Linked DNA regions of Homo sapiens: region 2 is linked to region 1. Evidence: fine-mapped expression QTL. A gene starts in region 1. The other region holds a variant in brackets. All regions are shown on one strand. Distances are between the middles of the regions.

What was found.
Region 2: its variant is fine-mapped to the expression of DCHS2 in fibroblasts (GTEx, PIP above 0.99).

The regions. Positions count from the first base shown.
Region 1 is chr4:154,487,364-154,495,648 of GRCh38, reverse strand. It overlaps DCHS2 (dachsous cadherin-related 2), which reads left to right and starts at 3,850. Exons shown (of 20, transcript NM_001358235.2): 1 at 3,850-6,345. The coding sequence starts at 4,294. RefSeq lists enhancers at 3,420-3,469, 4,272-4,451, 4,502-4,641, 4,110-5,065, 5,066-6,022.
Region 2 is chr4:154,000,016-154,008,349 of GRCh38, reverse strand. The region is part of intron 8 of LOC101927947 (a long non-coding RNA gene); the gene reads right to left. Among named protein-coding and RNA genes, the nearest start is that of SFRP2, 220 kb to the right of the region's middle. The variant A/T (reference allele first, on the strand shown) is at 3,262.

The DNA.
Region 1 (8,285 bases):
TTTTTTTTTTTTTTTTTTTTGTAGAGAGAAGGTCTTGCCACATTGCCTAGGCTGGTTTTTACTTCCCGGGCTCAAGCAATCCTCCTGCCTTGGCCTCTGAAAATGCTGGGATTACAGGCATGAGCCACTGCATCCAGCCAGATAGTGGGAATTTTATATCCTCCCCCTTCACACCTTCTGGGGGGCTAAGAAGTCGGAGTTTGATATTACTGAGAATTCCAAAATAATTCACTCCTAAAACATTTCATCATACAAACACCAGAGGGCAAGAAAAATACAATTTACCACATGCATTCTAGGTACCAATCCACATATATTGCCTCATTTAAGGCCCATGACATCCCTGTAAATTAGATGTATCATCCCCAATTTAGAAAGGAGGAAACTCTAAGGCTTAAGATTTAAATAACTTGCCCCAAATTATAGAGCAGAATAAGGATTTTCCAACTTTAAAGCTAAAACTCTGGCCAGTTACGCCATGATGCTTCGCTTACAAGGATCAGACCTTGACCTATTTCTTGCAGGCTGTTGGCTTCTGTATTATCTAAAATTATTTTTCACATATCTGAGAAATGCTCTTATTTCTCTTACTTTACAAAATTGAATTCTTAATTCTATAATTAAGGATATTCAGGACATTCAATGAAGGGTAATTGTGAAATGGACAGGAGACCTTGAATTGTACATGCTGGAGATATAAAGCTTTAGAACTAATAGGAAAATAGATGTCTGAGGTTCTTGATTTTCCATTTGTTTTCCACTGTTTCTAAACTAAACCACTGTTTACAAAGAATGTGTCAGTGAAAGATGCAGTAAAAGATGCTTCTTTTCCTTTATTTTTAGACTCAAGTAAATATTTGTTAACAATATGGTTGATATGGTTTGGATCTGTGTCCCTGCCCAAATCTCATGTTGAATGGTAATCCCCAGTGTTAGAGGTGGGACCTGGTGGGAGGTGACTGGATCATGAGGCAGTTTCTTATGAATGCTTTAGCACCATTCCCTGATGCTGTCCTCATGAGAGTGAGTGAGTTCTCATGAGATGTGTTTGTTTAAAAGTGTATAGCACCTCCCCATTCATTTTCTTCCTCCTGCCTACTTCCCCTTCACTTTCTGCTATGATTGTAAGTTTCCTGAGGCCTCCCCAGAAACTGATCCCACCATGCTTCCTGTACAGCCTGCAGAACCATGAGCCAATTAAACATTTTTTCTTTATAAATTACCCAGTCTCAGGTTCTTTACAGCAATGCAAGAACAGACTAATACAATGGTTTACAAAGTAAGTTGACGAAGCTGAAAAATAAGTTCAAGAAGTCCTATGAAATAATTAAGATGAGTAAGATTGCAAAGACATAATTCATTACAGTGAAGATTCTCATGGCCAATTCATTCTTGGTTATGGCTTCCAACTTCTACTTTAACAGACAAATGCATTCACTTACCCATAGGTTCAACCAACCGTCTGTCCAACACATACTTAGTAAATAGAGACACACTACATGCTAGGTACTGTTCTAGGTGCTGAGATAAAGCAGAATGAAGGTTTTGAGGTTGTAATAATCTAATAAACAAATGAAAAAAGCAAGTTGATTTCAGATGCTGATAGGTGTTGTGAATGAAATATACTGAAAGGATATAGCATTTATAGTAGAAAGGCTATCTGAAATAGGGTAATTAGGGAAGATCTTTCTTAACAGAGGGCATTGGAGTTGAGACCTGAATGAGAAAGAGCTAGCTCTTTCCAAAGCAGAAAAAAGAACTCCCAGGCATGGAAAGTTCTAACAATTCAAAGGTACAAGATCAAAAAGAAGGCAGATGGCTGAGTCCAGAGTGGTGGTATGAGGCAAGGTCAGAAAGATGGATAGGATCCTGTACTACTAAAAGGAGCTTGATTGAAGGAGTCTGAATTATAATCTAAGTATAATGGAATCATTTCAGGTTCTAAGCAGGAGGTAATATGATTTGAGACAGCTTTAAAAACATTAATCCAGATGCTTGTTCAAGAATTACTTATAGGCTGGTTGCGGTGGCTCAAGCCTGTAATCCCAGCACTTTGGGAGGCCTAGGCAGGAAGACTGGCCCCAGGAGTTCGAGACGAGCCTGGGCAATATAGTGAGACCTCATCTCTACAAAAGTAAAAAAAATAAACAAATAAATTAATAAAATAATATAAAATTTGCCAGGTATAGTGGTGGGCACCCATAGTCCCAGCTACTCTGGAAGCTGAGGTGATGGAATCACTTGAGTCCATGAGGTTGCAGTGCGCCATGATTGCACCACCGCACTCCAGCCTGGGTGACAGAGTGAGATCCTGACTCAGAAAACAAAACAGCAACAACAACAACAATAGCAAAAACAGAAAAGAATTACTTATAAAGGGGCAAGAGTGGGAGGGGAGGGACTAGTTAGGGTGCAAATGCAGAGACTGAAGATAAAAAGACTCTAAAGACTCATAACAAATCTCTTTAATGGTTAAAGAGAGTTCATTGGGGGAAAGAAAGCTGAATTTATTTTAATAATGTCCCCATTTTCGGTAACATATATGCTACAAAGTCAATTATTTTATTGTTATTTGGTCACAGGTAGAGATAACGGTGTGGCTGTGGATTAGCAATTACATACACCTCCGTTGCACATTTAAAAAGGCATTTTGTTGTTGCTGCAAGAAACCACTATGCAGGGCTTTTGGTCCTCCCTAAAGGAGAGAAACGGTATCTAGGAAATTAATTCTTCTCTCAGGCCCAAATGCAAAATTGCAGAAACCACTTGCTAAATATGGTCAGCCATTTTTAAGAGTCCAGAGAGTCTTTTCTCAGGCGTACTTTATTAGAGGCCATTGATCAGTTTCTACCGATTATTATAGTTAATTGAAGGGAAATCTGCGACTATGGCTATTTATTGGCATTTGCGTTCGGCTCAGACAGAAGCTAGTTTTGAAAGTGGTATCCGTAGAGTTATCCCGCTTGCACACTTCCTTGCCTAGGGGTGGTGGGGGAGCGCTGAGGGCTTGCGGGGTGTCAGCCACCAGGGCTTTCTGCTCATCAGTCAGCATCGTCAGACATCCTGGAAGTGTTATGATGGCGCTGAATGTAGAAAAAGGGTTCTCAGGGCGGATATATTGTCGTCATTCCTGGTGGCAGAGGGGAGTGACAAGAGGCTCACACGTCGCTGGGTAGTAGCACGCATAATAAAGTGTGGTTTGCACCATGTGTGCCACAGATTTCTCGGGTTTTCTGGAAGGCTTTTCCAAGTTCCGCCTTCTCCCCTTTAAAGCCATCCTGGCCCCAGCTATGCATCGGCCTTTGACTCCATCTGTCCTTCCGCTGCGGACGGGAGTCCCTCTCGCCAAATGGAGAACACAAGTTTGGCACCCCAAAGTGATGATAACCTCTACCCTCTTGGCTCAGCGCGAGCCAAGAGTCAGGCCTGCAGAGGGACGGTCAAGCGGATGGAGGGGGAGGCCGCGGAGAGGCCGCTCCTCTCACCTCCCCGCACCCATCATCACTTGGCACTTGGCCAAGCCCAGGCAGACGCCCCGCCTGCGCGTCCCCCACCCGCCCCGCGGTGCACGTCTCCCAGTGCTTTTGCATTTGCTCCTCTTCCGCCCTGCTGCAGAGCGCGGCTCGCAGGTTGGAGTTTGCCCTCGTGTGCGCCGCATCACACGGCAGGGAGGGGAAGGCAGGCGGCGGAGGCTGGGTCGGAGCAGGAGTCGCGCGGTCCCTGGCGCCCGGAGACACAGTGGGGAACCACCGCCCCGCCCCCGGAGCAGCGGACAGGGCCGCAGACCTCCCTTCCCCCCTCCCTCTCTCCCTCCTCCCCAGCGCCCTGACTCCCTGCCTCCACGCCCTTACTCCACCCCCTACTCCGGCCAGATCCCCATCCTCTCCTTGTGTGTGCGCGCTTCATATAATCTCCTCCTTTTTGGCAAAAGAAATAATGCACCTGACTTTACCAGGGGGGAACAACCAGCCGAGTAGAACAAGGAACAGATGTAAAGGGAATAAAAGGAGAGAGAAAAAGAGATGAGATTCGTTTAAAGAAATCCAGGGGCAGAAGAGGTGGCTGCCGCGGCAGAGGCAGCTAGAGCTTACTTCCCTGTCTGCGTGAGCTGCAGGCAGAGGACGCTTTCACCAGTTGCAGATGTAACCTCGGGAATTCCTGGGCCGTCGGTTTGTTTGCCAAACAAAGTCTTTTCTTCTCTGGCTCAGACACTGAAGAGGCTCCTGGATTTTTCTGCGATCCTGCCACAAGCTGGCAGTTACCCGAGAGCCTTCCCAAGGAGCTGGAGGAGAAATGAGCCCTTGTGGGCGGAAGATGGGCGAAGGGCGTCAGCAGCGGCGGGCTCCGGTCGGGAAGCTCCTTCTGCTCCCCGGGAGGAGAGATACACCCCATGGGCGGTCAGGCAGCAGCGGCGCCAGGACGCAGCGCTCCCTGCTCTGGCTCTTGGTGCACGTGTGGCTGTGGGCGGCCTCGGGCTCCTCTGCCCAGTTGTTCAACCTCACCCTTTCCGTAGATGAGGGGCTTCCCCCGGACACGCTGGTAGGTGACATCCGCGCCGGGCTGCCGGCCGCGCAGCAGCAGGAGGGGAGCGGCTTCTTTCTGTCGGAGGACTCCGATGACTCCCCGCTGCTGGACGACTTCCACGTGCACCCGGACACCGGCATCATCCGCACTGCGCGGCGCCTGGACCGCGAGCGGCGGGACCACTACAGCTTCGTCGCCGCCACGCTGCTGGGCGCTGTGGTGCAGGTGGAGATTCGCGTCAACGACGTGAATGACCACTCGCCCCGCTTTCCCCTCGACTCCCTGCAACTCGACGTCTCCGAGCTCAGCCCGCCAGGGACCGCCTTCCGCCTGCCAGTTGCCCACGATCCGGACGCCGGACTGTTCAGCACTCAGGGCTACACCCTGGTGCAACCGTCCGACCTGCCCAAGGACCCCGCAGGCCCGTTCTTCCAGTTGCGCTACCGGACTCCGGGGCCACTACCGTCACCGCTTTTGCCAGGCTCCTCGTCACCCCTGGAGCCTCTAGATCTGGTGCTGCTGCGGCGCTTGGACCGAGAGGAGGCGGCGGCGCACCGGCTGCAGATCGAGGCATGGGACGGCGGCCGACCCCGGCGCACCGGCCTCCTGAGCGTGGAGCTGCGCGTGCTGGATGAGAACGACAACCCGCCGGTCTTTGAGCAGGACGAGTACCGCGCCGCGGTGCGCGAGGACGCCCAGCCGGGCGCCGAGGTCTGTCGCGTGCGCGCCACCGACCGCGACCTGGGGCCCAATGGCTTCGTGCGCTACAGCGTCCGCGCCCGGCAAGTGCCTGGGGCGGGTAGCGGCGGCGGGGCACTGGGCGACGCGGCCTACTTCGCGGTGGAGGAGCTGAGCGGCGTGGTGCGAGTGTGGAGACCTCTGGACCGCGAGGCACAGGCCTGGCACCAGTTGGTGGTGGAGGCCCGCGATGGAGGCGCCGAGCCTGAGGTTGCCACGGTGCGCGTGTCCATCGCCGTGCTGGACGTGAATGACAACCGGCCAGCAATTCACGTGCTCTTTCTCACAGAGGGAGGCGTCGCCCGTGTCTCTGAAGGCGCCCGACCGGGCGACTACGTGGCTCGCGTCTCGGTGTCTGACGCGGACGGTGACTGGGAGAAGGAAGATGAGGCCACAGGGGAGCTTGGTGTGGGTCTTGGAGACGGGAGCATCTCTCTGTCCTTGGAAGGCGGAGAGGGAGACTTCGCGTTGCTACCCGGCGGCCCCCCAGGGGTATTTTTCCTTTGCGTGGAGGGGCCCCTGGACAGAGAGAGCCGCGATCTGTATGAGTTACTACTGGTGGCCACGGACGCGGGGTCCCCGCCGCTGAGCACGGAGGAGACGCTGCTACTCCGGGTCGCTGACCTCAATGACCAACCACCTCTCTTCAGCCAACAGCATTACAAGGCCTCAGTGTCCGAGGCCGCGGCCCCTGGCACTGTAGTCATGTGGGTCAGCGCCTCCGATGCCGACGAGGCAGGCAGTGATCACGCCTGGCTGCGCTACACTGTAGTCCAACTCTCGGCTCCCTGCAATCTCGGCTCCCTGCAATCAAAGATGGTCCACACCGCAGAGTGTGGACCATCTTTTGCCATTGATTCCGAAAGCGGTGCGATCAGCACTATCCGGACTCTAGACCGAGAGGTCCAGGAGGCGGTGGAGCTGAAAGTGGTGGCCCAGGACCTCGGAGAGCCCCCACTCTCTGCCACCTGCCTGGTGAGCATCACCGTAGATGATGTGAATGACAATGAGCCCATCTTCTGGAGGCAGGTGTACAATGCCACCATTGCAGAGCATGCCCCGGTTGGACACTGCTTTCTGCAGGTGAGTGCATCAGGCCTGTGGGCCAACCTGAAGGCTTGGGAAGGGATGGAGAGGGTTGTGAGTTGGCCTAGGAAATTGTGATGTGGAGGATAATATTCCGGCTCTCAAATACAAGACTGGCGGTAGTGCCCCCTCTACAGTGAGATGAATGATGCCCTCTAGTCACCTAACTTTTTTTTGCCAGGGTCTTGGCTACATGATCTCTAAGGTCCTTTCAACTTGACTTTTAGATCTTGATTTATCTTATTGAAGCCTGATTTCTTTCCTGCTGGATGTATGCACCTAAATAGGTTCAGGAGGAACTGCCCATTCTAAATCAGACCTCTTCCAACTGACAATGTCTCACATCATATCATATAAATACATGTATACACACACACACACACACACACACACACACAGACACACACACACACATATATATATTTTTGTCAAACAGAGTGTCACTCTGTTGCCCAGGCTGGAGTGCAGTGGCTCAATCTCGGCTCACTGCAACCTCCTTTTCCCAGACTCAAGCAATTCTCCTGCCTGCCACCATACCTGGCTAATTTCTGTATTTTTTTAGTGGAGATGGGGTTTCACCATGTTTGCCAGGCTGGTCTCGAACTCCTGACCTCAGGTGATCTGCCCTCCTCAACTTCCCAAAGTGCTGGGATTACAGGGGTGAGCCACCACGCCCAGCAATGTCTCATATATTTTTTTAACAGCTTTATGAGGCAACCTAGGGAATAAGGTAGTTCTCGTAAGTGAGTTTTTAAAATGACCAAGTGTATATCTTTATACACTGACACTGTTTTGAGTTACCTTTTCCAGAGACTTCTTACATGTTTTCCTACCTTCCTTCGAAGCTTACAAAGGTTGGATGAAGACTGAAGTCATCTTTATTAGTTAGCATCAGGTGTGAGCTAAGCTTCTTCCATGATGCTTTCAGGACTCTGAGGGGCAGTGGGACTCAATTATCCTTTATAAAATGGGGCACTGTACACTGCTTTTTGATTTGGGTGTTTTGCCTCTTGTAGTTTTCCTGATCTCTCCTTCACTATCAGAATGGCATGTTTTGCCCCCTTCCAGGCCATTCCTTTTTTTTTTGCTTCCGATTTCCTATTTGTTTCTTTTTTATTTTTTTGAGACAAGGTCTTGCTTTGTGGCCCAAAATGGAGTACAGTGGCACAATCATGGCTCACTGAAGCCTGGACCTCCCAGGGTAAAGTGATTCTCCCACCTCAGTCTCCCAAGTAGCTGCAAGCACAGGCATGCGCCAACATGGCTAGCTAATTTTTAAATAATGTGTAGGGACGAGGTCCAGCTGTGTTCCCCAGGCTGGTCTCGAACTCCTGGGCTCAAATGATACTCCCGCCTCAGCCTCCCAAAGTGCTGGGATTACAGGCATAAGCCACCTTGCCTGGCCAATTTCCTATTTCTTATCTGATGGGAGATAATCAAAGTTCCAAGACTGATTTATTTACTCTGAAATAACTTGAGTAAATATATCTAGCCTGAAGAGCTTACCAGGGCATGAAGCTCTAAAGCTTAATTTTGCTCTCAGCCTGGGTTGTTTTAAGATGTTTGCTGCTTACTTTCTGGTTCTCAGTTAGGGAGTTCAGGCTTTAGCTTTGCAAATTATGTCTCAAATAATAACCTTTAGATAATTGAGGTGCTACTGCAAAGTAAAAGTGGGTTTCATGACTGCTTCCACCATTTTAATCTTTTGGGTATATGGGTGATAATAATCTCCATCCCTTTCTTTAGAGTGATTGCCAGCTCTGAGTTGCTAGATTATTAAAAAGTGGCTTGATATGAATTAATGCTTGCTGATGAAATGGACAAATCCACAAATATTAGTGACTAACACTGTCAAAGTATATTTCTCTCTCAAGCAGAGTCTGATGTGAAGCAACTTGGCTGTTTCTCCTCCGTCTGAGAGAGCCAGGCCTGAGAGT
Region 2 (8,334 bases), 490 kb after region 1:
TCTGCTATCATCTCACTCCAGTTAAAATGACTATTATCAAAAAGACAAAAAAAAAGACCAATGATGGTGAGGACGTGGGGAAAGGAGAATTCTTATACACTGTTGGTGGAAATGTAAATTAATACAGTCATTACAGAAAATAGTATAGTGTTCCCTCAAAAAATTAAGAATATAAACTACTATATGATCCAGCAATCCACTACTGTGTATGTAGCCAAAGGAAAGGAAGTCAAATATTTTGAAGAAATATCTGCACTCCCACGTTTACCACAGCACTCTTCACAATAGCCAAGATATGGAATCAACTGAAGTATCCATCAAAGGATGAATGCATAAAGAAAATCTCATATATATACACAATGGAATACTATTTAGCTGTAAAAAAGGACAAAATCCTGCCATCCACAACAACATGGATGGAACTGGAGGACATTGTGTTAAGTAAAATAAGCCAAGCACAGAAAGACAAATGTCACATGTTCTCACTTATATATGGAGTCTAAATAAATGAATCACATGGAGATAGCAAATAGAATGATAGTTATTAGAGGCTCAGAGGGTAGTGAGGAGGGGGAGTGGGAACGAAAACACACTTAGATATTATAGAAGGAATATAATCTAGTGTTCAGTAGCATAATAAGGTGACTATAGTTCACAGTAATTTACTGTATATTTTTACATAGCTAGAAAAGAAGATTTGGAATGTTCTCACCAAAAGAAATAATAAATATTTGAAGTGATGGATATCCCAATTGTGCTGATTTGATCATTGCACATTGCATACATGTAACAAAACATCACACTGTACCCCATAAATATATACAATTATTGTGTATCAAAAATAAAGCTTAAAGAGAAAAAATGTAGAAGGAAAAAAAGAAATGTAAAAAAATTTTTTTTAAAAAAAGAGCCCATCTGTTGACATGATCTGTTTCTACTCACAACACCCTGACACCAAAATATGTAAGTTTTTTTCCACACCCACAACCAGTTCTCCAGCTTTCCAGACACCAACTGGGTATCCAATGATTAAATTCCATTCTGACACTAGGTACCCAGAGTTAATTCAGACCCCACAGGTTACGGCCTCAGTCCCACAAGACTGTCCCACTTCAGACACCAATCACAAGTCCCAGCCACCCATACTTCTGATAAAACAGTCATAAAGTCAGAGGTTCCCACAACCCCTTCCTCAGTTTCAATGGTTTGCTAGAACAGCTCACAGAACTCAGAAAACCAGTTTACTTCCCATTGCTTATGTATTATAAAAGCTACAACTCAGGAAAAACCAAATGGAAGAGATGCATAGGGCCGGCGATGGGGGTGAGGACATGGAGCTTCTGTGCCCTCTTCACACGTTGATGTGTTTGCTGACCAAGAAGCCCTTCAAATCCCATTGTTTGGGGATTTTATGGAGGTTTCATTACATAGGCATAACTGATTAAATCATTGGCCATTGGCAATTGACTCAGTCTGTATCTCCTCTTCTTTCTTCAGAGGTTGAGGGGTGGAAGTGAGGTTGAAAGTTCCAACTCTTTTATCCTGTCTTGGTCTTCCTGGGAACCAGCCCCCAGCCAGAAGCTATCTAGAGTCCCCCAACCCCCAGCCATCTCACTAGCATCCACTCATGTGTGGTTGAAAGGGGCTTACGAATAAAATAACACACTCCTCTCATCCCATCGTTCAGGGAATTCCAAAGGTTTTAAGAGCTCCATGTAAGGAACTAGAGCCAGGGCTGAAGACAAGGATATATTTTTGTATTATATCACAATATCGGGCTATCTTCTGCACCATTCCCTCCTGGCAGTTCTCACCACTATTATTTAAGCTCAGGCCTTGATTATTTCAGCTTGAAATAAACATTCTCCAGGAACCTCTGACCCATGATTCCTAGCACACAGTTGGAGTCCTGGCGCTTTACTGTTCACACACTTTCAAAGGCTCCCACTGCCGACCAGGTAAGACACCATCCTCCTTAGCCTGGCACTGACAGTCTTCTAAATATAGGCCTCAAAACACCTTTTATCTTTATCTCTTGTTACTCCCCTCCACATACCCTATACTTAAGTTAAAGGGAACCATGTGAATGCCCCAAACAAACATGTCAGTTTCTTACCCCATGTCTTTGCTCCTTGCCTTCCCTCCGGCAATGCCTTCCTCTCCCTTCTCTGCCTGCCTTCTGTAACACTACAGGTTCTAGTTGAAATCATGACCATCCTTCACAAAGACTCATCCCACATGTTGGTTCCCCCAGTGGGTGCTCCCTAAACACCTCAGTTCCTGCCCTCAATTGATTTTTTTCTATTTGTGCTGTTCTTATGTCACTTACTGTATGCTGCTTTATGGTGACTTCAGTTCCCTTTTAACCTGTAAGTTCATTTAGGGCAGAGTGCATGTCTTACTCCTCCTTGAACTCACATAGTATCTTGTCCTCAGATGGTCATTAAATGCATACCAATTGAAAGAATAAATGCATGAAGGAAAATAAAATCAAGCCTCAGCTAGCTGTTACATTGAATAAGACAATAAATTAATTCACACTTAGATGGAAATGACTGCTTAAATGATTATAGACACAAAGATATTTTCATTGTAATTGCAGACAATCCATTAACCAAAGAATGACACTAAATTATGGAACCTCACAAGGGTAGTGTTGGAGTTTCCTGGTGCCACCTAAAATCAGATCACCAACTATCCTGCTTTGGGTATGAACTGCCTTAATGATTGGCTAGGCCTAGGTGTTTCAGGGTCCCCAGGATGGTCAGGTCTCCCATGTGACCAGTGCAACCTTATAATGCCACTCAGTTGAAAGTCAAACAAAGCTGACTGTCACATCCACCCTGCCATCCACTACAATATGTTACTTTGGGAAACTAACTACCTACCTGAGGCTTGGTTTCTTCGTCTGTCAAGCAAGAATGATAGTCCTGCTTTTCCAAGTTCTCATGAGGAACGGTGATCCAGGCAGGCAAGTAGAAGCTGCCAATGCAGCCGTGAGCATTCAAGTTTCTACTTGGGCCTCCAAGCACCACAGGTATGCTTGTGGTTCTGTCTGGCTCCACGTGGCTTTGGCAGGAGAAAGGGAGTCTGCCTCGCTGTCTTGCTGGACACTGCAGGAAGATGTTTGAAGCCTCCCCTCCAGTCTTTGTGGAAAGTTATCATAGGAGGCAATTTGGGGCAGGCTCCCTGATTCTTATGACTTTCTCCACCTCTGAGTTCACTGAGACCAAAGGAGCTTTTCCCAGTGAGGAGAGAAAC[A/T]TTCCAATCTATTGACATAAAAATGCCCATGGGAGAGTCCAGGGGAAATCATCAGACAGGAAGAAGATGGAAGAGATTGCGTGGCAGAGGCTTCAGGAGAACACAAGGTCTCAGGGTCAAGCATGCAAAGTGAGAGAGAGAGGGAGCGTGTGCTCCTGCCAATTCCTTCTGCTGAACATGTACCCTTAGCACAAAGAGCAAACACGCACACACACACTTTAAAAATACAAAAAACAAATGGGAAGTTTTCCCTTGGAAAAAAATAGCCTCTGGCAGAAAACCATGAAGGTAATTGCTAGAGACTGGGCCCATCTCGGCCCATCTATGCTGAAACGTGGCCTCCCCATACATGAAAGCTACTGCTCGCTGGTCAGGCCAGAACCCCAGGCCAGGCCTTCCACTCTCTCTGTCTCTCCTCAGGATTCAATCTTACTGCCAACTGGCAGTGAATCTGGACAAATTGGCAGGGGCCCACCTTGCTTTAAGTGAATGCATGTGCACCTCTCAAGCTCGCAGAGGATACTCATTAGCCTGCTCCACTGCCCCTTTGAGGGAGGTTAAGGTGGCCTGTCTACCAACACCGACAGAGCCCACCTCTCGAAACCAGTCACACCCCCCGCCTCGAGGAGCAGAAAGGAGGCCTTTGCTCCCCAAATACCTGTACATAGAAAGAGCTTCTATTCACAGAGTTATATGCTGGCTTCTTCTCATGCACTAGTCTCCCCACACATTTCTGTGGCTATGTGCTATGTCCAAGTAGAAAGAAGTTCATCGAGCTGAAAACTCCCCAGAAAGTTAGACATTGAGCATGACTCTAAATATGCCCCAGGGAACACAGCCCAGAAAATTTGTTAATTAAATCTCGGTGGAAAACTAAGTCTGACCACAGTCATCTTGAGTTTAACATGGATCAGCTAAGAAGTAATGGAGATCCATCCTGTGGTCACGCTAGCCGGAACTTTGTCACCTCCCTGGGCAGGGAATGGAAGGTGCTGCCTGGCACCATCTGCTGAGGAGGCCTGGAGTCAGGGCGGATGCACAAGATTTCAAGGGAAGGACAAAGGGAAGCCTGAGGAATTGGAGAATTTCCATTTCACCCCTGCCCCTTCCCCTTCTCCTCTGAGGGGCCTGCTTTTTCGACTTTGTCACATTCTCTCTCTGACCCCATTTTAGATGAACTCTTTAAAATAATGAATTTCCTATTTGATGATTCCATTTATCTCTTTGATAAATGGAGAGGGCATCGATTGCCAAGAGCTGCCATCAACCGCCTGCCTGGATTGGGCTGGTCGGGTGCGGTAATTAGCAAATGTTTAAGGACAGAAGAGTCAGTTCCATAGTTCTGGTTATTCACAATCGCTACAGTTCTTCTTATATATCCACCAATTCCACCTCTAGGAATTCCTGCTAGAGAAACATGCAATGATTTAGGACTCAAACTAGTAACAAAAATGTTATTTATAAAGGCAGAAAAAACAAAGGTTAAAAAGTAGAAATGTACTTGAATGAGTTACAGCACAAAGGAATACTTCTAAACCAATAATAAGTACACATTATTATGTATTTATCACAAAAAATGTGTTCACAATACATGAAGTAAATAAAAGGGGATCACAAGCAGTATGATCTCATTTTGGCAAAATGAAATAGTGAAAAAAAAGTAGGAAGAGAGAAAATAAAGACAGGAGGGAGGGAAGGAAAGAAAGAATCTAAGGATATGTATTTTAAAATGCTTCTTGCCTGTAATCCCAACACTTTGGGAGGCTGAGGCGGGCAGATCACAAGGTCAGGGGATCGAGACCATCCTGGCTAACATGGTGAAACCCCATCTCTACTAAAAATACAAAAAATTAGCCAGGCATGGTGGCAGGCACCTGTAGTCCCAGCTACTCAGGAGGCTGAGGCAGGAGAACGGCATGAACCTGGGAGGCGGAGGTTGCAGTGAGCCGAGATCACACCACTGCACTCCAGCCTGGGCGACAAAGCGAGACTCCGTTTCAAAAAAAAAAAAATGCTTCTCTATATAGTGACGTTCTCTTTATCCTTATTATATGGTATAAATTTTCCTTGTAAATTTCATTTTTTTAATTAGAGAGGAAAATCATGCTATTTAAGTGCGCGCGCGCGCGCGCGCGCACACACACACACACACACACACACACACACACACACACACACACACAGAGGAGTCTGTCCACTTCACTGTCCTGTCTCTGAGATGAGATGCCTGTTTGCCAGCTTCCTGCCAAGGGGCCTGGGCGGGCAGGCTGCACCACCCCGTGGCTTAGAGCATGTTCTTGCAGTACTTGCCCACCATTCCACCAGGCCAGGTGGCACCTGGCAAAGGTGAGGAAGCAGGGGTGTGGAGGAGCAAGACAGTAGGATGCCTGGCTATCCAAGTTCTCCTATTACTAGCACAGGCTTGTGAACCAAATCAGAGCTCCTCTTACAGAATATTTTTGTTTTCCAAAACTAAAATACCAAATTGACAGGAAAAGGAGAACACCCTGAAGGGCTCTGCTAAGTAGACTATTTCACTCCATGACTTTACATTCAAGGTCAAACTAGTTTAAATGTTCGCTTCCTGTTGGGGAGCAGGGTGCATGTGCTGTCCCAAGAGGGGCTGCCTTGCTAAGGGTCACAGAGTATGATACTTAGTGCTCGCTGACACTTAGTGCTCTACAGGAGGTGGCAGGTCCCAGCAGCAGCACCAGCTCCAACACTTTGGCATCACACTTCATTTTCCAGGCCTCAGTTTCCCCCTGTGTAGTAATGGGTACTATGTATTCACTAATAACCAGCATAACAGTCAGTACTCTTCACGCTCTGTTAGAGGAGCTCCATGGGGAGCTTATGGGGAGGGTGAGTAGTGGCTTAAGTGGGAGCCAAGGAAGAAGCTAAATGGGCAATGCCTTGGACCCCCAACCCCCAATATAACCAGAGCAGCTCCACACATTATCTCTTTTATATATTTAGGTTCAAGGGAAGGATTTATTGGAAAATAGATTTCTACAATTATGACTTAGCCACCAAACCAAAAATGTAGCTCTGATATATATACATATATATATATATATATATACATATATATATACATATATATATGTATATATATATATGTATATATACATATATATATAAAGAGAGAGAGTTTTTTTTTTTGTTTTTTTTTTTTTTTTTTGAGATGGAGTCTCGCACTGTTGCCAGGCTGGAGTGCAATGGCACAATCTTGGCTCACTGCCACCTCTGCTTCCCAGGTTCAAGCGATTCTCCTGCCTCAGCCTCCCAAGTAGCTGGAATTACAGGCACCCACCACCACGCCCAGCTAATTTTTTGTATTTTTAGTAGAGACAGGGTTTCACTACATTGGCCAGGCTGGTCTCGAACTCCTGACCTTGTGATCTGCCCGCATCGGCTTCCCAAAGTGTTGGGATTACAGGCATGAGTCACTGCACCCAGTCCTGATATTCTTTTTAATAAAGTATTACCTCTAAGCACAGTGGACTTATAATTATGTTTCAGCTGAGACAGGCATTGATTGCCTGGACTCTTTTTCCTATTTTCAATGTGATTTACTCATGCAGAGGAGGGCTGCCATCTTTGGGTATAATCTCAGAAATAAGATTCAAACATTCAGCAGACAAAGATGTGTTATTAAGTCATCCTCCCATAAAGAGAGTGAGAAATCCATGAACCTGGCATCTCTACAAGGCACCTGGCACCAATTATTCCTGGCCCTGGCTAAATGGTTCTACATAAGAGTGCTCAAAAATAAAGTGGAGCTATTTTGGACTCTTTGCTTGGGTTTTATTAGGTATTTTCTTTCCATATGAGGAAATGGTTCATTGCTCTGTTCTCCATGGTACCTGCTATTTAGCAATGGTGATGTCTATGTTTGTGCATATGCACCTACATGCAATGCCCTTTGGTGGTGGACATCTGCATTTTAGAAGTACTTTGAGTGAGGGGAATATATGCCAGCTTTATTTCTTAAAATAACAGCCATCTCAGTCTGTTGTCCGTTCCTATGACAGAATACCTTAGATTGGGTGATTTATAAAGAATTATTTCTTCTGGTTCTGGAGGCTGGGAAGTTTAAGGCTGACATCCAGTGAGGGACTTCTCACTGCATCATAACACAGTGGAGGGCATCACGTGGTGAGAGCAAGAATGTGCAGGTCAGCTAGAGTCTTTCTTTTTCTTCTTATAAAGCCACCCATCCCATTTTGCCCCCCCCCCCACCCTGATGATCTTATCTAAACCTAATTTCCTCCAGAAGGCCCAATGTCCAATCAATATATGAATTTGGGGATTAAGTTTCCAATACATTCAAACCATAGTAACAGCACCAGAGCAGAACTTTCACAACTATCTGATTCCTGACCCCCAACATTCCTTCCTTTCCTGGAAATAAGAAGGAGAAAGAAGAGAGGAAACAGAAAGAGGAAAAGAAGGGATGGGAAGGTAGGAGGGATGAGAAGGAAGAGTAGAAGATAAAAGAAATTAAAATTCATTTTAGAGCAAGCTTTTTAATCTCAAGTACGCTAGATTTTTGTTCTGGATGGGCTTGGGAATTCTTAGCCTGTGTCATTTTCATGATCTTGAAAAACAAAACCATCTATGGGAAGGGCTGCCATGTGGACCTGGATTTGATTTTATTGCATTTTGCTCTCATCTCTTCTGGAGTGTTGGTGGGGACCATGAGAAGCATGAATGTCATTTTGACAGAATCCAGAGCAACCTAGCCAAAAAAAAATTCCTCTCTCTCTCTCTCTCTCTCTCTCTCTCATGCACACACACACACACACACATACTCGATAAAGATGGTCAACTGCTCATGACTTCATGCTGAGCCCCCTTTCCCTGGGCCACCTCACACCTGCCCAGGCAGTGATGAAGCTCTCGGTAACCTCCCTGAGAGGCATGACTGTTGCCTGCATATTGTTGTCCATGAAAAGTTGACATTTTCTTATTCTGAAACATTTGTGTATATGTATGTATATATATATGAAAAGGCTTGGAAGGTTGATAAATTTTTCCACCTCTGGCATGTTTTTATAACATAGTGCTGAA